Linked DNA regions of Homo sapiens. The protein of the gene in region 2 interacts with the protein of the main gene of each other region in a pairwise test. Each region holds a gene or a part of one and is shown on either strand. Other genes may lie near its edges.

Evidence for each region. The genes of interacting proteins can lie anywhere in the genome.
Region 1: the proteins of DISC1 (region 2) and ZNF76 interact in binary tests that used the Homo sapiens proteins (3 or more experiments, as listed by UniProt).
Region 3: the proteins of DISC1 (region 2) and CCDC13 interact in binary tests that used the Homo sapiens proteins (3 or more experiments, as listed by UniProt).

The regions. Positions count from the first base shown.
Region 1 is NC_000006.12:35,262,735-35,269,734, forward strand, and holds part of ZNF76 (zinc finger protein 76), read left to right. Parts: intron 1-7,000. UniProt on the Homo sapiens protein: May be involved in transcriptional regulation.
Region 2 is NC_000001.11:232,007,673-232,014,801, forward strand, and holds part of DISC1 (disrupted in schizophrenia 1 protein), read left to right. Parts: intron 1-1,112; coding exon 1,113-1,377; coding exon of another isoform or gene 1,378-1,482; exon of another isoform or gene 1,483-1,982; intron 1,983-7,129. UniProt on the Homo sapiens protein: Involved in the regulation of multiple aspects of embryonic and adult neurogenesis. Required for neural progenitor proliferation in the ventrical/subventrical zone during embryonic brain development and in the adult dentate gyrus of the hippocampus.
Region 3 is NC_000003.12:42,763,254-42,770,253, forward strand, and holds part of CCDC13 (coiled-coil domain-containing protein 13), read right to left. Parts: intron 1-7,000. UniProt on the Homo sapiens protein: Required for primary cilia formation and promotes the localization of the ciliopathy protein BBS4 to both centriolar satellites and cilia.

The sequences.
Region 1 (7,000 bases), on a different chromosome or scaffold from region 2:
TCTTGATGTGACTAGCTTCAATGGAATCGGCTCCTTCCATCCCAGCATGAAGCAATCCTGTATAACTTGCACACCCTCCCATTCTAAGGCCTCTCCTCTCATACCCTTGCCCAGTATCCTGTGAGATCCTGCCTCTCAGATTCCTCCCTCACCTTTTCAAACCCGGATTGTCTTTCACCCTTCCACAGGGCCTCCTCTTCCTGCCTTCCTCTTATTTGTCCCCTCAGCCATCCTCACCTCACCAATCTTGATAATTGATTACAATATAAATCTCCCTTCCATCTCAGGTCTGCTCCTTTCTTCCTCCACTCTCTTGTGCATCTATCTCCAGGGCCATGCGTATGCCCCTGCTGCTTTCAGCTCTGCTTCCTTCATATGCTGCACTGTTCCACCAAACTTCATCAGTCTCTTCGGTTTATCCAGAGAACTACACTCTTCTCTGGGAACTTCTGATGACTTCTGATAATAGATCACCAAAGGATCTTGGTTTTTTAGAGGGCAGGGAGAGAGCCCTTTGAAGTCCTTCAGAATCAATCTAGCTGTGTCTCCTGGACACCCTCCCACTATCCTATCCTGTTATGAAGCTGCTTGCTGTATATGCCCTCAGAGTAGAATGCTTTGGGTGTCAGCTTCTGCAGGCACTGAATTAGCCCCATTGTTTTCCAAGCCCTGGGAAAACTTGATAATCCCCAACCACTGAAGTCTGAAGAGTCAGTAGCAAAATGTGACATCAAAGATCCACATCCAAAAGTCTATTCTGTGGGTCACCAAATTCCCAGGTCTCTTATAATGTACTTATTGGCTGTGCAGCAATAAATACAGCAGAAACTAAAACTAGAGTTGAGGAAAGGGTATACCCTGGGTTCTACAACTGCTGTGGGTGGATTTTAAAAAGGAGTTCTTGCCTTAGATTTGTTTACTTAGGGCACAGAACTTATTCTGCCTTGTATTTGAGTTATTTGTGTACTTTTCTCAACCCCACTCTGTGAGCTCTGTGAGAACAGAGACTAGGTTTTCTTTTTTCTTTTCTTTTCGAGATGGAGTCTTACTCTGTCACCCAGGCTGGAGTGCAGTGGTGCAGTCTTGGCTCACTGCAACCTCCTCCTCCTGAGTTCAAGTGATTCTCACACCTCAGCCTCCCAAGTAGCTGGTGTTACAGGCGCCTGCAACCATGCCCAGCTAATTTTTGTATTTTTAGTAGAGACAGGGTTTCACCATGTTGGCCAGACTGATCTCTAACTCCTGACCTCAGGTGATCCACTCGCCTCAGCCTCCCAAAGTGCTAGGATTACAGGCATGAGCCACTGCACCTGGCTGGTTTTCTTTATCTTCTGTCTTCATCTCTTCCCTCACATTTAGCAGGTAGTCAGTACTTACCTGTTGGATTAAATTAACTCACTCAGAAATTCTGCATCAGGTGTACAAAAGTAAAAGCAGTTCATGTCTACATTCATTTTGTGGACACAACACCCCTCCCCAAAGTTCTCCAAACATGATAATGGGCATGTCCCTTGATTTAAACGTCGGTAATTTAGACACTTCCTTTTTTAGTCATTGCTCGGGTGGGGGAATGGGTGTAAGTGCTTTTCTTTTTCTACTGTATTTCTGGTAAGATAGGTTGTTTGACGCAGTTGCTCAAATACAGTGGTAACAGCATCAGGGGCTGTCTTATATAAATCTGTTCTCAAGAAAACAGCTAGTTTGAAATATTTAGTGTGGGTTGCAGAGACGATTAAGGAACAGAGGAAACCAAGGAGGCAAAATGTTGGTAATTTTTGAAGTTGGATAATGGGTTCAAGAGGTTCATTATACCATTCTTTCCATTTTTGTGTATGTTGGAAATCCATTATAAAAAGATTAAAGGCAGGGGCAGCTAGGTGAACAAGTGCAAATTTAGCACTGTTCCTTGGAAAACACCTCAGAGCAAATGAGCTACTGTTTCTGAATCAGTACTGTTATCTAGGTTAAGTAGTATATTTAGTCCTAACCTTTCTCTGACCTCTTCTGTTTGTGAGATATCAGGATGCTAAATTTAAAAATTAGCACCCTGCAGAATTCTGTACCTAGTGGCCTGGGAATTGTAACATCCTGGCATCAAGCACCTGTTGCACTGCTTCTCAGCTTAGGTATGGTTTCTGGTGGAATAGGGCTGGACTGGACCTGAGAAGAGGGTGAGGCAGTAAGGAGGAAAGAGGGACTGAGGGCTGGAGAGAGACCAGAGCTCTACTAGGGTCTTCCCCTTCTTGCCTAAAGGTTTCAAGTTACTGGGAGATCCTAAAGGTATATATATTCATTCATTCACTGATTCATTCATCCCACAAATATTTGGTGAATATCTGCTGTGTGCCAGGTACTTTTCTAGGTACTGGGAATAGAGCAGTGAGCTCACTGTTTGAGGAATGGACAGGGTAGAGACAGACAATAAACAAATAAGTAAAATATATATTGAGAAAATTAAGCAGAGAAGGGAGATAGAAAGTGCCAGGAGTAGGCCAGGTGCAGTGGCACACACCTGTAATCCCAGCACTTTGGGAGGCTGGGTTGGGTAGATAACATGAGGCCAGGAGTTTGAGACCAGCCTGGCCAACATGGCGAAACCCCAGCTCTACTAAAAATACAAAAATTAGCCAGGCGTGGTGGCAGGCACCTGTAATCCCAGCTACTCGGGAGGCTGAGGCACGAGAATCACTTCAACCCAGGAGGCAGAGGTTGCAGTGAGCTGAGATCACGCTGCTGCACTCCAGCCTGGGCGACAGAGCGAGACTCTGTCTCAAAAAAAAAAAAAAAAGAAGAAGAAGAAGAAGAAAATGCCAGGATTCTGGGTGTTAAAATTTTAAATAGGGTAGTTGAAGAGGTTCCCACTAAAAAGGTAACATTTGAGCAAAGACCTGAAGGAAGTTAGGGGGTAAGTCAAGCATACATCTAGGGGAAATTTATTCCAGTCAGGAAGAACAGCAAACACAAAGGCCCTGAGGCAGGAATGTGCCCTATATATTCAAGAAACATGAGGAAGCCAGCCAATACGGCTGCAGTATATTAGTGAGAGAAGAAATGGCAGATGTTGCGGTGGGGGTGAATTGGGGGCAGATCACACAGGCCACTGGCTTGTAGTGTGAGTTGTGAGTGAGATGGTAGCCATTAGAGAATTCTAGGCAGATAAATAACATGGCCTGACATATTGAAAAGGTCATTGTGGCTGCTGTGTTGAGAATAAGCTATAACGGGGCAAAAATGGAAGGAGAGAAACTGGTTAGGAGGCTACTACAATAGTCTAAACAAGAGAAGTTGGTGGCTTGAACCCAAGGTGAAGCAATGGAAAGGTGAGAAGTGGTTGGCTTCTGGATGTATTTGGAAAGGAGCCAACAGGATTTGCTGATGGACTGGATGTGATATATAAAAGAAATAGCAGTTGAGGGTGGCTACAATTTTTTTTTTTTTCAAGACATCTCGCTCTGTCGCCCACGGTGGAGTGCAGTGGCGTGATCTCAGCTCACTGCAACCTCCGCCTCCTGGGTTCAAGTGATTCTTCTGCCTCAGCCTCCTGAGTAGCTGGGACTACAGGTGCATGCCAGCGCACCCGGCTAATTTTTGTATTTTTAGTAGAGATGGGGTTTCACCATATTTGCCAGGCTGGTCTCAAACTCCTGAACTCGTGATCTGCCTGGCTCCCACATTTTTGGCCTAAGTAACAAAATGGTAAAATTCCCATCTACTGAAATTGGGGAGCCTGGAAGGAGGGCAGGTTGTTAGAAGGAGGAGATAAGGAATTCACTCTTGAACATGTCAAGTTCGAAGTGTTTTTTGGATATCAAAGTCGAGATGTTGAGTAAGCAGCTGGATATTCAAGTCTTTTGGAGCCTAGGAAATGTCTACTCTCAGGAAATAAAAGAACACCATCACCTGGCAAGAGACAGCGGAGTATGGGAAGAACACTGGTGGTCAGGTGTTAGGCCCTGCTCTGCCACCAGGTAGCTATGTGATCCTTTGGGACTCCTCTGGCAACGCAGGCCTCTGTCTCTTCATCTGCAAAATGACTGCTTTATTTTATTTTATTGTCTATTTCTTTTTTTTTTTTTTTTTTTTTTGAGACGGAGTCTCGCTCGTCACCCAGGCTGAAGTGCAGTGGCGCCATCTCGGCTCACTGCAAGCTCTGCCTCCCGGGTTCACGCCATTCTCCTGCCTCAGCCTCCTGAGTAGCTGGGACTACAGGTGCCCACCACCGCGCCCGGCTAATTTTTGTATTTTTAGTAGAGACGGGGTTTCACCGTGTTAACCAGGATGGTCTCTATCTCCTGACTTTGTGATCCGCCCGCCTTGGCCTCCCAAAGTGCTGGGATTACAGGCTTGAGCCACTGCATCCGGCCCCTTATCTGTTTCTTTGACAAGGTCTTGTTCTGTCACCCAGGCTGGAGTGCAGTGGCGCAATCATGGAGGCTCACTGCAGCAGTGACCTCTCCAGCTCAATCAGTCCTCCCATGTCAGCCTCCTGAGTAGCTGGGACTACAGAGATGGGCACCACCACGCCTAGCTAATTTTTGTATTTTTGGTAGAGAGGGTTTCACCATGCTGCCCAGGCTGGTCCTGAACTCCTGGGCTCAAGCCTCCACCTGCCTCGGTCTCCCAAGGTGCTGGGATTACAGGCATGAGTCACCACACCCAGCCAAAATGACCACTTTAGACTAGGAATGAGTTGTGTTCTCAGCCCCTCCTATTGTGGGAGTTGATGAATTAAGTGCTTAGAATAAACATGATAATATATGTGTATCTGAGAGCATTTTGGAAACTGCTGAGTTCTACACCAGGTAGTGGTATTGGCAATAAGATTTCTTCCTTCATTCGCTGAAGTAATACCCAGTGAGTGCCTGCCATGTGGTGGGCACTATGTCACATGAGGATACGATGATGGAGAAGACGAATCTGTGCCCTCAGGGAGCACCGCAGACAACCCCCTGTTGTGGCTTCACTGCCAAGTGCAGACGAAACATGGGGCTGGAGTGTGACATTAGCCAGGGAAAGCTTGTTCCTGATCTGGGTCTCCGTGGAAACAGTGAACGTGCATGTCAAAGATGAGGCAAGATGGTAATCCCGATGAGGGAAAAGTCATCCACTTAGCTGGACTAGGGAAGAGTTGGGAGTGGTTGGGAAGGGTTGGAGTGGTGGGGGCTTCAGTTCCTTCCCTCCTCCATTCTTTCGTTCAACATTTACTTCCTTGCCAGGAGCTTCTCTTAGAAGCTCACAGTTCTGTGGTAGATGAAGAGTTTCATATCTGGTCTCAGGAGTTCAACTTAGATATTACAATAAGCAGAACTGAATCAGGATTCAAATCTGAGCTAAAGAGCTCAGTTAGCTATGTAACCTAGTAGTATTAATCATTTGGTATCTGTGGGCACATTCTTTGTTAGGTGCTAATTAGGCTGAAAGGCATGCTCTCCAGGAACTTAAATTATAATCACTGTAACAGAAAGTAAGAATGTTATTTTCCCCTAAAAGAGTCAGGTGTTAAGGAAAACACACTCCGTGGCAGTGTAACCCTTTAACTGCATCTGGAAACTGTCCCTGTGGCTGTGTTTATTCTTGTGTCATTTAGATGTCTACGTTTATATCGTGAGGAGAGTCTCTTTGACCAGATAAGAGTATAAGATATAGCTCATCCTAATTGACAAAATTAGTCACCCACAAAATTAGTTTAGAGGAGACATAGTCAACATCTACCACGTAATGGAATGGGGAAATTTTGTCCTGGAGAGTGAAAAAAGAAAAAACAAACAAACAAAAAAAACGAAACCTGGCCGGGTGTAGTGGCTCACACCTGTAATCCGCACTTTGGGAGGCTGAGATGGGCAGATCACGAAGTCAGGAATTCAAGACCAGCCTGGCCAACATGGTGAAACCCCATCTCTACTAAAAATACAAAAATTAGCTGGGCATGGTGGCGTGCAGGAGAATTGCTTGAACCAGGACCCAGGAGGCGGAGGTTGCAGTGAGCCAAGATCGCACCATTGCTCTCCAGCCTGGGCTATAGAACAAGACTTCATCTCAAAAAGAGAGAAAAAAAAAAAAAAAACCACCTGCAATACAAATCCAAGTGCAGCTGAAGCCATTGTCTTTAACAGATGGCCCTAACCTGTTTTGAGTGCTGTTTCCTAAAGCTGCCAACAAACTTCAAATGCCTTTTACCCTGGCAGCTATCAGTCAAGATATAGAAATGTGATGGTCTCACAAATCCTATGCAATTGTCTCTTTTGCTGGCAAAAGTATGAGGCCAGCCGGGTGTGGTGGCTCATGTCTGTAATCCCAGCACTTTGGGAGGCTGAGGCGGGTGGTTCACCTGAGGTCAGGAGTTCGAGACCAGCTTGGCAAACATGGTAAAACCCCATCTCTACTAAAAATACAAAAATTTGCCGGGCATGGTGGCAGGCGCCTGTAGTCCCAGCCACTGGGGAGGCTGAGGCAGGAAAATAGCTTGAACCTGGGAGGCGGAGGTTGTGGTGAGCTAAGATCATGCCATTGCACTCCAGCCTGGGCGACAGAGCGAGACTCTGTCTCAAAAAAAAAAAAAAAAAAAAAAATGTATGAGGCGTACTCAGGCTCCTCTCTTCCAGTTCAGAATCAGAAGGATTTGTGATGTTGGACAGGTCATTCGGGGTCTCAGGCTCATTATACTGTCATTACCTGGAAGCCAGAGTGCCTCTTTTCTAGTGCCTCTATTTGACATTCCCTTAGAGCTGGCCCTCTGGTGAATAGTTCATCCCTAAGAAGGCCAGATACAACTTGTTACCCTGGTACTATCTCACTTCATCACTTCATTTGTTGGGAGTTCCTGCTACTTTTGGATGGTTGATAAAGCATGAGACCCATACAGTTAAGATAAGAACCAAGGAACTGGGAGCTCTTTGAGGTTGTAGAACTGACTTGAGGCTTTGATGTTGGGGATTTGGCAGGGGTGCCTAAGACCAGAGTTCTTTCTCTGAGATCATCTTCTCAACCCAGGAAATACTGT
Region 2 (7,129 bases):
ATTTTGGGCTAATGCTGGAATGGATTAAAACTTTGGGGTACTGTTGGAAAAGCATGATTGGTTTTGAAATTTGAAAGGGACTTGAGATTTGAGAGGGGCTGGGGTGAAATGATATGGTTAGGCTTTGTGTCCCCACCCAAATTTCATCTTGAATTGTAATCCCCATAATCCCCAAATGTTAAGGGAGAGACCAGGTGTAGGTAATTGAATCATGGGGGCAGTTTCCCCAGTGCTGTTCCCAGGATAGTGAGTTCTCATGAGATCTGGTGGCTTTATAAAGGGCTCTTTCCCCCTGCGTTCTGCACTTCTCCTTCCTGCCACCATGTGAAGAAGGTGCCTTGCTTCCCCTTCACCTTCTGCCATGATTGTCAGTTTCTTGAGGCCTCCCCAGCCACACTGAACTGTGAGTCAATTAAACCTCTTTCCTTTGTAAATTAACGAGTCTTGGGCAGTTCTTTTTAGCAGAATGAAAACAGACTAATACAATAGAGTCTAGCAATAGAGTGGAGAACAACATAGTTACAAGCTCTGCCCTCAGGGAAAAGAAAACAATAATCACATAAATAATTAGAATTGTCATAAATACTCTGAAATAAAAGTAAAAAATGCTAAGAGATCCATCATATTTTCCAGTTGGAAGGCAGGGAATGTTTCTCCCAAAAAGGTTATTTAAGCCGAGTTCTGAAGATAATATGATTTAGTCAGATGAAGGCCTGGTTATATGTGTGTTGATGGAGAATGGACAGAGAGAGTTGATCTAGCCTGGAAGAGTTGGACAGGTCTGAGGATTCAAAGCAAGTCAGTAGGGCTGGTAACACATATATGAGCAGAAACTGTGTTGTATTGGGCTGCTGAGTCTGGAAAAATACATAGGATTTTGGATGCCTTTGCAGACCAAGCAGCTAAGGACCAGCACATTTCATGGTGACTTGATGGTGTGCAAATTTGGTCCCTCTGATGAATCTTCTAGTTGAAATAATTTATCACTGTGAAATTAAGTCATCAAGTATAAGATGACCAGCTGACTTTTAGCCAGGTAGACAAGCTATCGACTTGGTATGATGAAACATCACTGAGTTCATTTTTATGCCTTTGTTTCCTCTCTGTCTCAGCTGCAAGTGTCCACTGCTTGGGAAAGTGTGGGAAGCTGACTTGGAAGCTTGTCGATTGCTTATCCAGAGCCTACAGCTCCAGGAAGCCAGGGGAAGCCTGTCTGTAGAAGATGAGAGGCAGATGGATGACTTAGAGGGAGCTGCTCCTCCTATTCCCCCCAGGCTCCACTCCGAGGATAAAAGGAAGACCCCTTTGAAGGTATTGGAAGAATGGAAGACTCACCTCATCCCCTCTCTGCACTGTGCTGGAGGTGAACAGAAAGAGGTCTGTCCTTTTCACATGGCCTCCAGAGGGGACCCTTATTCTAAGGGGTGCTTTGGGACCATGCTCCAAATGGGAACAATAAATATTGGGAAGGCTTCCCATTGAGCATATAAACTTTTAAAAGTTTCAATAACTCTTGAATATGATTACAAAATAAAGTAGAATTTTTGTAGAAGTTTGAAATATAGAAGAGCAAAAAAACCCAACTTTTGGCATATTTAGTTCCATTTTCATTCTAATTTAGTGGCTAGAATTAGAATATGCAGTCTAATATAGAATTACCATATATAGCATACATTATATATGTCATATATAATATAGTTATTATATTCACTATAGATTATATATGCCATACATGATATTTAACATATATACTATACATTATGTATTGTATGTCATATATGATGTTTATATATTTAGAATCTATATATTACAATATATTATTATTTATTTGAATGAAACATTCAAATATATGTATTTATCCCATTAATTGTTTTTACCAAAACCAGATCATAATGAATGTTTATAATGTTCTTCTTTCATAAACACAACTAAAGTTTGGCCTGAGATATATGTATTACAAATTAAAATATGGTTTTATTTAACTTTCTTTTTCTCTCCCCTCTTTCCTCTCTCCCTTCCCCTTCCACTCCTCACTTTCCTCCTCCCACCCTAACAAGAGTCTTTTCCATAAAAAGGCCCTAGGAAGTTTTTCCTGATTTCAGTGCCATGACCTGAGTCTTCAGAGCTCTTTGTTGGCCCAGGTTCACAGGTGTTGTGAGTGTGGAAAGGAAATAGCATGGAGAGGCTGGAGGAACTTGACACATGGCTTTCAAGTCTCATGGTTGATGTTAGATGTTAGCTGTGCTTCCTCCCTGGGTCTTTGCCAGGACTCACCACTGGTGGGTGGGGAAATTGCCACCTCCCCAGGCCAGCCCTGCCAGTCTCACATCCCATCTGCAGGACCATGGCCTTCAGAGAGCAGACATTTGTGTTCTTAGTCACTGCCTCTGGACTGCTTAGAAAATCGATCCTTGATCCTATATTTGGATTCCATGGTCTTATAAGAAAGCAACCACTGTCACTCTGCATCCTTGCTGGCCCAGTCACAGGCTCTACGTTAATTTATAGACATCTGAACTCGTTTGTTAACCCAGGTGCTACAGGTGGAATCCTCCAGCAAAGCCTGGTCTCCAATGCTCTGGGTAGAGGTGTTGAAAAGTTACCACCTGCTGCAAGTGGATGGCTTGAAAGAATATTCTGGGGTGGAGGGAAGTGCCACCTAAGCAAGGGTTTATTCCTGGGTGGAAGAAACTGCAGGCTCTGGGAATGAGTCTTTGAAGGTGTGTCTGGCTTTCCAAAGTGAGCTACCAGGAGGAGCTCGGTGTGGGGCAGTCAGAAGCCATGCCAGGTATGTGATGGAGTCCCTGGGTCATTGATTCTGCTGGAGGCCAGGACTGATTCAGCAGAGATCCCTTTCTCCTGTAGCGGAGAAAAATGAATATCTTTCCTTTACCCATCTAAAGGTTCTCAGCTGAGGCACCTATACAGACAGAGTAACAAGAGAAAAATGTACAAATGTGCTTAATATAAAATTTACATGACACAGGAGCCTGCAAAAATGAAGACCCAAAGCAACAGAAACCAGTGTATTTTTATGCTTAAGTTTGAAGAATAGCAGACAGATGTGGAGAAGTATAATTGGACAAAAGGAGTATGATTTAATGGCAATAAACTGGGGGGAGCTTAGCAAGGCCTGTTTGCTCGGATTCTTCGCTGCATCCCTGTGTCTTCAGAGATAAGGATACTCCTTTCCTTTGGGTATAGGTTGTACACTTTAAAGATGAGGGTGTTATAATCTACTTTAGAGGAAGGTCAGATAATTATTTATGGCCTGCTTCAGGAAAGAATGGCTGCAGAAGGTCAGAGAGACTTTCCTGCTTCTGCTGTTCCTCAAATGCCAAGGTGCCATATTTTGGGGTAGTGTATTCTGAACCCCATCACTCTCTCCCTCCCTTTCTCCCTCCTTCTCTGCCCTGCCCACTGAGCCCTGAGCCCTCCAGGTTCTCTGGGGACAGACTTTCCCAGGCATAGGAGGATTCGTTTTCCTGCATAGCATTATAAGCACCTGTCAATTTCACTATCTGGCTATAAGAACACAGAGCTATATTTGTTGAAAAATAGGAAGCTTGGGGTCAAGGATGAAAAAAGAGTGGAGCCTTATCCTAGGTCCTGTGGTGGCTGCTGTTTGGGTGCTCCAGGGGTCCCCCAGAAAGCCTCCCAGATCCTCTCCACCAATTGAAATGCTGAGGATGTCCTACATTTATTTGTTGCTTTCTTGGGGGTGAGTGGGTGCTTTAGAGGGGACCTTACAGCTTTTGCTGGCTTTCAGTATCATTTCCCTGTTCCTGTATCGCAGTGCTGGATTTATTTTCACAGAGAGGGCAGCCGTTCTCTGAATTCATGAGTGCCATGGATTTTAAGACAATGTTTTCTGAGAACGGCAAAATTATGGGGCCAGAAAACAGATAAATTGTTGCCAGGAAAGGGGAAGGGACTCATTACAAGAGCAACAGGAAGGAATTTGGTGCGTGGAAGTTGGGGGCGGTTGATAGAAGTATTCTCTCTCTTGATTGTGGTGGTAGTTACGTGACTGTGTGTATGTCTAAATCCATAATTTTACATCAGAAAGAGTGAATTTTACTGTGTATGACTTTATAACAATTATTTTAAAAAGTTTTTTTAAATGTCTACCTATTTAAAAACCGGGCTATAGATGTTTGAGTCAGTGCTTTTGTCTCAGGGCTATCAAAACGCAGTGTGGCCTGCTGGAAAGAGCACAAGGCTTGAGTCTGAGTCTGCCGTGATCCTCAGTTAGGCCTCTTACAGGCCGCATCTCCACATCTGTTAAGAAAAACACCACCACGACATAAGAGGATAATGAAAACTATCTCATGAAGCTGTGATGAAGATTTAAATAAAAGGATGCATCACGAAGTGAGAGACGCATACCTAGTAGAGGCTAATTTGTGTTAACTTTTGTTTCTATCACTCTTTCTGGCAGTCACAAGCATCTCTAAAATGCTTTTTGCATGCATAATGCTAGCAACAGCTATTTGTTTGTATGACTCAGTCTCCAGGCTTAACTTTCCCTTTTGCATAAGGAGTTTGGGGGTGCTTGAGATTGTTACATTTTCCTTTACATGTATAATATACTCACTTTTTGTCAAGAAGTAGACATGAGCAATGAGTTAGTGGAAGATACCCAGTCAGAGAAAGGTTTAACGAAGGAAAACTCCCGTTTGTATTCGGGTCCAGGATTTTAGACTACAGAAGGTATGGGGAAATGATAACAAGGGCCTCATTAGGAAGGTGCTTTTGTTTTCCTGCCTGTGTTTTCCGGGAGCCATTGAAGTCTGGGTACTTTGCATTTATCCTGTGGCTAAAATGTCTATTCGCTTTGCAGCTCTGGGTTGGTTTTGCTTTAGAACTCCGTGCTGGGTCTGACCATCCTATACTGGTTTCTCTACTGAAGCTTGATGCCCTGAAGGCAGTCAATTTCTTTTTGACCCAAATCTTCCATGAAAAATTACTGACTTCTTATAGAGGTCCACAGGAAGATGAGTTTTCAAAGCCTTTCCCGTGCTTATCTGGCCAACGTGGTGATGTGCATTCTGGTGATACTTTGTTATCACAAGGGCTTTGTCGTTGATCGACACCTTCCTGGGTCTACGGTCCTTGCCAGGCTGCTGAGCACCATTCCCCCATTTTACAGCTGGGCCCATTAAGGTGAAGCAATTTGCTTTGGACTTTGTTACAGAGGAAGTCAGCAACAGGGCTCAGTGCCAATCTTAGCATGAACTTCCTCGAATTGTAAGAGCCCTTTTCTTTTCCAGTTTCATGACAGCTCTCCTCCAAGCCTTTCTGAGGACTCTGGAAACTATCAGCTGCTGTTGGCCCTGGTTCGTAGATGTTACAGAAATTGAATGGGGGCCAGACAGGAGCCAGGGAAATCAGTGAGCCAGGCTTCCTCCGCTGTGAAGTGGCTCTTTTGTACGGGCTGTTCTGGCCATAATACCTGCGTAATTTTTTTCTTTCCTGTCTGCAACCTAGCCTGCGGGGTGCTTTCTGTTTCCATTGCTTTTTCTACATAATGGGCTCCCTGGACAGTACCACTCTCCCAGACTTCTCATCCCAGCTGCTTCCTTTCTGAGCCAGTAGCTCTCACCAAAGAGGCCAAAAGAGGACCTGGCAATGTTGAGTCATTGCGTGCAGTATGTGAGTAGCCAGTGTGTGAACACAGCTGCAGTGAACGGAATTAGCAATAAGACACAACGCAACCAGGTAGCCTCATTTGTTCAGATTGAGGTCTTCAAAAAGCATTTTAAGTTTACGGGTGGAAAGGTGTGATACCTTTCCTCAGCCATCATTAAGGGCTAACACTCCTATAACAAAAACAAGTTAACGAGAAAAACATAACACATTTATTTAATCAGAGTTTTACATGGCACAGGAGGCTTCAGAAATGAAGACCCAAAGACCCAGGAAAAACTATTTTTATGCTCAGATTTAATGCAGAATAGTCAGCTATGAAGGAATGTGATTGGACAAAATGGGTATGATCTAATGGTTATAGACTGGGGGGTGAGCGGACCAGCAAGCCCTGTCTGTTCAGATTCTTCTTGGACGCTCTGCATAGTATTTATTCCTCTTGGGTATGGGGCCGGACTCCTCTAAATGGAGGGCCTTCAAGGGAGAAGGAAGAGAGTGACCTTTCTAGGTTTTATGTTTGCTTTGAGGGAGAGGAGTCCTAGTTTCTAAGACTGGCTTTGAGGAAGAGGAATTCTGGTTTCTATGGCTTGCATCCAGGGAGAAAAAGGAGTGTGAGAGGGGAGGGCAAGAGAAGGCAGAGAGATCTTGCTTCTGAGGCCTTCCAATCTCCTTTGGTTCAAAGTACTCAGGCATACCAAAGTGTCACACTTAGGGGTATCATACTGTGAGCCACAACATAAATATCTCCATTCCTTTTTACTCAATTTCACATAAAAAAAGCTGGAAAAGGTGATCCACAATGAAGATGTTTGTCCTCCTTGTCTTAAACTGATTTCTATATCTAGAAATGTCTTTATTGGGCAAAAGTGCTTCCTCTTCAGCCATAATGGGTGCAGATCTGATTCTTTCTCTTCTCTGACACTTACTGGCCCTGGGACAGCTGGAAACTCACTTTGACTCTCCAAGGAGCACATCCCTAAATGTGTGATCTCTTGATATCTCTCCCACTTTTGAAAAGAACTGACAAGGGAAAAATGTTCACTTACCCATCAGCTGGTTTTGCTCTTTTTGTTTAATGTCTTTGGGGAGAAAGCAAAGAGCTAGGACATGAAGAAAACTTCTATCTCCACTACATTTTGAAGTTTTGCAAACCCAGCCATCTTTCCCAAGAGCAGAGCAGTAGAAGCAACCAGGATGCAACCAGGGTTGGTAATTGGTTGGTTAATTAAAAAGTCAGAAAAGACAGAGAGTCATAAAAGATGATGCATGCGTATTTTAAACCTTTTTGTTTCTAGCTGAAAACATGCCCTCTCATTTGCTATTCATTCGATATAGGACCAAGTATTTCTGTTTGTAGAGCCTGCTGATTGGCTTTTCACATGACCCTCGTTGTGTAAACCTCACCTATCATGCATCATTAACAGTTTCCACTTTTGGTGTCTTTAAAGTGGGCTGGAAACGTTAAGAGCACTTGCAAAAC
Region 3 (7,000 bases), on a different chromosome or scaffold from region 2:
TTAAATTCCTAGTCAGGTTACAGTTTACTACGTACAGAGAAACCTTTAGGCTGAACTTAGAATATATAAGAAGGCAGCTTTAGGCTACAGTTAGTTTAACACATCCCACAGACATTTTTGTTTGGCTCTTACAGAACACTATGTTAGGATTTGAATTTGTTGCCAACATTCAAAGAATTGTAGTTTCAATATCAGATTTCCAGTGTCAACAAAAACAGTCAAACTCTGTAAAATATTTGAAGAGATGTACTTTTTTTTTTTTTTTTTTTTAGATGAAGTCTCGCTCTGTCACCCAGGCTGGAGCGCAGTGGCACAATCTTGGCTCACTGCAACCTCTGCCTCCTGGGCTCAAGCAATTCTCCTGCCTCAGCCTTCTGAGTTGCTGGGACTACAGGCATGCACCACCACACCCAGATAATTTTTGTATGTTTTTGTAGAGACATGGTTTCACCATGTTGGCCAGGCTGGTCTTGAACTCCTGATCTCAAGTGATCCACCCACCTCAGCCTCCCAAAGTGCTGGGATCACAGGTGTGAGCCACTGCACCCAGTCTGAAGAGATTTATTCTGAGCCAAATGTGAGTGATCATGGCCTGTGACACAGCCCTCAGGAGATCCTGAGACCACGTGCCCAAGGTGGTCAGGGCACAGCTTGGTTTTATACATTTCAGGCAGACCTGAGACATCAATCAAATACATTTAAGATATATACCGATTTGGTCCAGAAAAGCAGGACAACTCCAAGGTTGGGAGGGGGGAGCTTCCAGGTGATAAGTAGATTTAAAATTTTTCTGATTGGTAATTGGTTAAAAGAGTTACTATAAATAGAAAGGAATATCTGGGTTAGAATAAAAGAGATAAAAGTTTTGATCATGCAAATGAAGCCTCCAGGTAGCAGGCTTCAGAGAGAATAGATTGTAAATGTTTCTTATCAGACTTAAGGTCTGTGTTGATGTTAAATGTTGGTCAACTTTTCCTGAATTCCAAAAGGGAGGAGGGTATAATGAGGCGTGTCCAACCCTTGCTTCCCATCAAGGCCTGAACTGGTCTTTCAGGTTAACTTTGGAGTGCCCTGGCTGAGAAGGAAGTCCATTCAGATGGATGGGGGGCCTCTGAATTTTATGTTTAGTTTACACCAGCTTCTTTTATAAAAGTTTACAGATCTGGCAATGCTGGGCCCATCGTCCCACACGGACAGCAGCTGCTATGCAGAGAGTTCCTTTGGTGCATAATAGGTTCTTTCCATTAAACCACTGTCCCTGCCACCTCCAGATGCTGCAGCTGGCACATCAGCTGCCCATTATCACTGCACATAAATGTTGTTCTTTCTCTTAAACCTGCTGGATTCACTTTTATTTCCCATCAGCCACAGCAGATGTTTTGGGTTTGTGGCTCCTGCTGTGGATTAAGCCCAGTGGCATCTCAGAGGCTGGCTTCAGCCACTCCTCTACCTGGGAGGCCTTCCTCCCAGGCCTCCCCATCCCAGCCCTTTACCTTCCCACTAACTCCCAGTTAGCCTCTAGGATTCCCCTCAGGGCACTCTGTGGACTCCCAGAATCCCTAGGGCACCCCTTGATCACTAAACTTAACCTCAGTGTATTATAATTATCTATTATTTTATTTACATTACTTCCCTTTACAAAGAGACCTCTTAAGGGCAGGGGTCCTAATACCTTATTCATTTGCTAAATCTCAACATCTTGCCCAGAACAGGCCTTCAACTGTCATTTGTAGAATTGTCACTGAATGAATGAACACAGTAACTTGTAAAGCTTTTCTCCTTTTCTACTCCCAATTTGCACTTGAAGTCACTGAGGAACTGGTACTCATTGAATGTACACTGTGCCCCAGGCAAATTACTTAACCTCTTTGCTTTCGTTTCCCATTTGTAAAATGGGACTCTGATACTTACGAACTTCACAGGGAGTTTGTGAGATTAAGTGGAAGAATGCATGGAAATAATTATCATTATCACTGTATGAAAAGTGGTGCTCTTGGCCCAACGGAGCCTCTGGGATAGACAGTAATGCCTGCACTGAGAGGACACCTGTGGTCCAGACCGGCCCCCAGAGTATTAGTATCTAATCTGTGCTATTCATGAGGCCAGTGGAGATTTGAAATTAATTATCTGGGCTGTGGCCAGGGTGTCTATTTTTATTTTTATTTTTTTGAGATGGAGTTTCACTCTCGTTGCCCAGGCTGGAGTGCAATGGCACGATCTCGGCTCACAGCAACCTCCATCTCCTGGGTTCAAGCGATTCTCCTGCCTCAGCCTCCCGAGTAGCTGGGACTACAGGCATGCACCACTACGCCCAGCTAACATTTTTGTATTTTTAAAGCTTCCCAGGTGAGCCTAACGTTCAGCTGGTTTGAGAATGAGAGGTGTTAAGCACTCTGAGAGGCTGTCTGGGGAGAGAGAAGCTGCAGGAGAGACAGGCATCTCAGTCAATTTGAAGCTGAATGCAGAAGAAATTCACCTGGGTGGGGAAGGGACGGTGCCTGAGTGGGGGGCAACGGGCTCTCCTGCCAGAACAGCATGTGCAGAGAATGTGATGAGTGTGGGGAACTATGAAAGGTTCAGAATGGCCAGAGGGCAGGGCACATTTGGGGAGGCACCAGAAGAAGGGTCTGATCTGCCCAGCTAAGGAGCCTGGACTTTATCCTGAGGCGCTGGAGATGTTCAGAGGGTGCACACAGGATCAGCTTTGCCTTCTGCAGAGCTGGAGGCAAAGGGCCTAGCTAGGAGGGGGTCTCTGGGAAGCCATGTGGGCCTAAATCAAAACTGTAGCAGTGGAGATGGAGGAGGGGGAAGAGGAATTGCTGCCAAATGGAAGGGACTGAAGGCAACTATGCAGAGAAGGAGAGGGGAGAAACCTAGGCGGTTTGGGTTTGAGTGACTGGGGAGACAGCAGGCCCTGACAGAGGAGCAGTTTTCCACGCTGCAGACAAGGTGGTGGACTTTGAGATGCTGGGTGGGCAGCTGGCTGGCTGAGATGCTGGGTGGGTCTGGGGTTCAGAAGGGAAGTCTGAGCTGGAGCCTCAGGTAGTTGAGACCTAGAGTATGAACAAAGCAGCATGAGGAGAAGGTGTAGAGTGAGGAGGTGGGAGAGAGGGAAGGAGAGGGAAGAGGAAGAAGAGACAGCTGGAAGCAAGTAACAGCCTGACGGGTTCATCTTGCCTGCTGTTCAGAAAACCAATGCACTAAAAACAGCGAGTTTTGCAGCAAAGAAAGAGTTTGATGGGCCAGTCAAGTGAAAGGAGGGGAGGTAATTCTCAGATCTTCCTCTCACTGCAGTGAGCCATGATTGCACCACTGCACTCCAGACCGGGGAAAAGAGCGAGATCCTGTCTCAAAGAAAAAAAAAAAAAAACAACCAACCAACCAAACAAACAAACTTCCTCTCCAAGAATATTAGCAAATTGAATCCAATGATGTATTTGAAAAATTATACCACATGACCAAATAGGAGTTACTTTAGGTATGCAAGGCTGGTTTAACATTAGAAAATCAATTAACATAAACCTATCACATCAACAGGCTAAAGGAGAAAAGTCACACAATCATATTAGTAGACACAGAAAAAGCATTTGACAAAATCCAATGCTCATTCATGATAAAAGCTCTAAGTAAACTAGGAATAGAGGGGAACTTCTTCAATTTGATTAAGAACATCTACAAAAAACATACAGCTACCACCATACTTAGCAGTGAGAAACTACACGCTTTACCCCTAAGACTGGGAACATGACAAGATGTCCCTTCTCTCTACTCTCTTTCAACATCATACTAGAAGTTCTACCTAATGGAATAAGCCAAGAAAAGGAAATAAAAGATATATATTTTGGAAAGGAAGAAATAAAATTGCCTTGGTTGCAGATGACTGATTGTCTATGCAGAAAATCTCAAAGAATCTATTAAAAAAAAAAAGAACAAAAAAACTCCTGGAACTTATAAGTGATTGCAGCAAGGTTGCAAGAAGTAAGGTTAATACACAGAAGTCAAATGTTTTCCCACATACTAGCAATAAGCAATGGAAAGCTCAAGTTAAAAATGCAATGCCATTTATATTAACACAAACATTGAAATACTTAGGTATAAATCTTACAAAATATGTGTAAGATCTATATTAGGAGAAATATAAAACTCTGGGAAAAGACTATAAACTATAAAACTCTGATAAAATCAAGAACTAAACAAATAGTTATCTCATGCACATGAATAGGAAGAATGAATATTGTTAAGATGTCAGTTCTTCCCAACTTGATCTATAGATTCAATGCAATTGCAATAAAGAAATCCCAGCAAATTACTGTATGGATATCGACAAATTGATTCCAAAGTTTATGTGGAGAGGCAAAAGATCCAGAATATCCAACACAATATTAAAAAAGAACAAAGGTGGAAAACTGACACTACCTGACCTTAAGACTTACTAGGCTAGGCGTGGTGGCTCACACCTGTAATCCCAGCACTTTGGGAGGCCGAGGCGGGTGGGTGGATCACCTGAGGTCAGGAGTTCAAGACCACCCTGGCAAATGTGGTAAAACCCCGTCTCTACTAAAAATACAAAAATTGCCAGGTGTGGTGGTGGGCACCTGTAATCCCAGCTACCTGGGAGGCTGAGGCAGGAGAATCGCTTGAACCCAGGAGGCAGAGGTTGCAGTGAGCTGAGATCGTGACATTGCACTCCAGCCTGGCCAACAGGAGCAAAACTCCATCTCAAAAAAAAAAAAAGACTTACTATAAAATGATAGTAATTAAGACAGTGTGGTATTGGTGAAGAAACAGACAAATGAATCAATGAAACCAAATAAAGAGCCCAGAAATAGATCCACATAAATAGAGTCAACTGATCCTTGACAAAGAAACAAAGGCAATGGTGCTGGAACAACGAATATCCATATGTAAAAAAGTGAATCTAGACACAGACCTCATCCCTGTCACAAATATTAACTCAAAATGGGTTATATACTGAAATGTAAACTGCAAAACTTCTAGAAGGTAATACAGGAGAAAATCTAGCTGACCTTGGGTTTGGCTATGAGTTTTCATATATAATACCAAAAGCATGATACATGAAACAAAAAAAATTGATAAATTCAACTTCATTAAAATTATAAACTTCTACTCTGTGAAAGATACTGTTAAGAAAATGAAAAGAGGCCGGGAATGGTGGCTCATGCCTGTAATCCCAGCACTTTAGGAGGCTGAGGCAGGCGGATCACCTGAGGTCAGGAGTTTGAGACCAGCCTGGCCAACATGGTGAAACCCTGTCTCTACTGAAAATAAAAAAATTAGCTGGGCATGTTGGTGTGCACCTGCAGTCCCAGCTACTCGGAAGGCTGAGGCAGGAGAATCGCTTGAACCCGGGAGGTGGAGGTTGCAGTAAGCTGAGATCACTCCACTGCACTCCAGCCTGGGCTACAGAGAAAGACTCAAAAAATAAAAAAAAATAAAAAACAAGAAAATGAAAGAAAAGAGAAGCCATAGAGACTGGAAGAAAACCTGCCAGACACATATTTGACAAAGGACTACATCCAACATATACAAAGAATTCTGATAACTTAATAATAAGAAAATACCCCAGTTAAAAAGTGGGCAAGGCCGGGCATGGTGGCTCATGCCTGTAATCCCAGCACTTTGGGAGGCTGAGGTGGGTGGATCACCTGAGGTTGGGAGTTCCAGACCAGTCTGGCCAACATGGTTAAACCCTGTGTCGACTAAAAATATAAAAATTAGCTGGGCGTGGTGGCAGGAGCCTGTAATCCCAGCTACTCAGGAGGCTGAGGCAGGAGAATTGCTTGAACCTGGGAGGTGGAGGTTGCAGTGAGCCGAGATCATGCCATTGCACTCCAGTCTGGGCAACAAGAGTGAAACGCCGTTTCAAAAAAAGAAAAAAAAGAAAAGTGGGCAAAAGATCTGAACAAACTCCTCAACAAAAAAGAAATATGGATGGCAAATAGACATATGAAAAGATGTTCAGCATCATATGTAATCAGGAAATTGCAAATTAAAACAAAAATGAGATACCATTACATACCTATTAGAATGGCTAGAATCCAAAACATTGACAACATCAAATGATGGCAAGAATGTGAAGCAACAAGAATTTCTATTTATTGCTGGTGGGGATGCAAAATGGAAAAGCCACTTTGCAAGACAATTGGGTAGTCTTTTTCAAAGCTAAACAGTCTTGCCATATGATCCAGTGATCATATTTACCTAAATGAGTTTAACAATATATCCACACAAAAACCTGCACATGAAATGTTCATAGTGAGAGGTGACAGCATGCTGGCAGCCCTCGCAGCCCTCGCTCACTCTGGGCACCTCCTCGGCCTTGGCGCCCACTCTGGCGGTGCTTGAGGAGCCCTTCAGCCTGCTGCTGCACTGTGGGAGACCCTCTCTGGGCTGGCCAAGGCCGGAGCTGGCTCCCTCAGCTTGCAGGCAGGTGTGGAGTGAGAGGTGCCGGTGAGAACTGGGGCTGCGCGCAGCGCTTGCCGGCCAGTGAGGGTTCTGGGTGGGTGTGGGCTCCGCAGGCCCACACTCCAAGCAGCCGGCTGGCCGCAAGCCCCTGGCAGTGAGGAGCTTAGCACCTGGGCCAGCAGCTGCTGTGCTCAATTTCTCACGGGGCCTTAGCTGCCTCCCCGCAGGGCAGGGCTGGGGACCGGCAGCCCGCCATGCCTGAGCCTCCCCCTGCCACCGTGGGCTCCTGCGCGCCCCAGCCTCCCCAACGAGCGCCACCCCCTGCTCCGCAGCACCTGGTCCCATCAAAAGCCCAAGGGCTGAGGAGTGCGGGCACACAGCGGGACTGGCCGGCACCTCCGCCTGGGGCCCTGGTGCAGGATCCACTGGGTGAACCTAGCTGGGCTCCTGAGTCTAGTGGGGACTTGGAGAACCTTTGTGTCTAGCTAAGGGATTGTGAGTGCACCAATCAGCACTCTGTATCTAGCTCAAGGTTTGTAAACACACCAATCAGCACCCTATGTCTAGCTCAGGG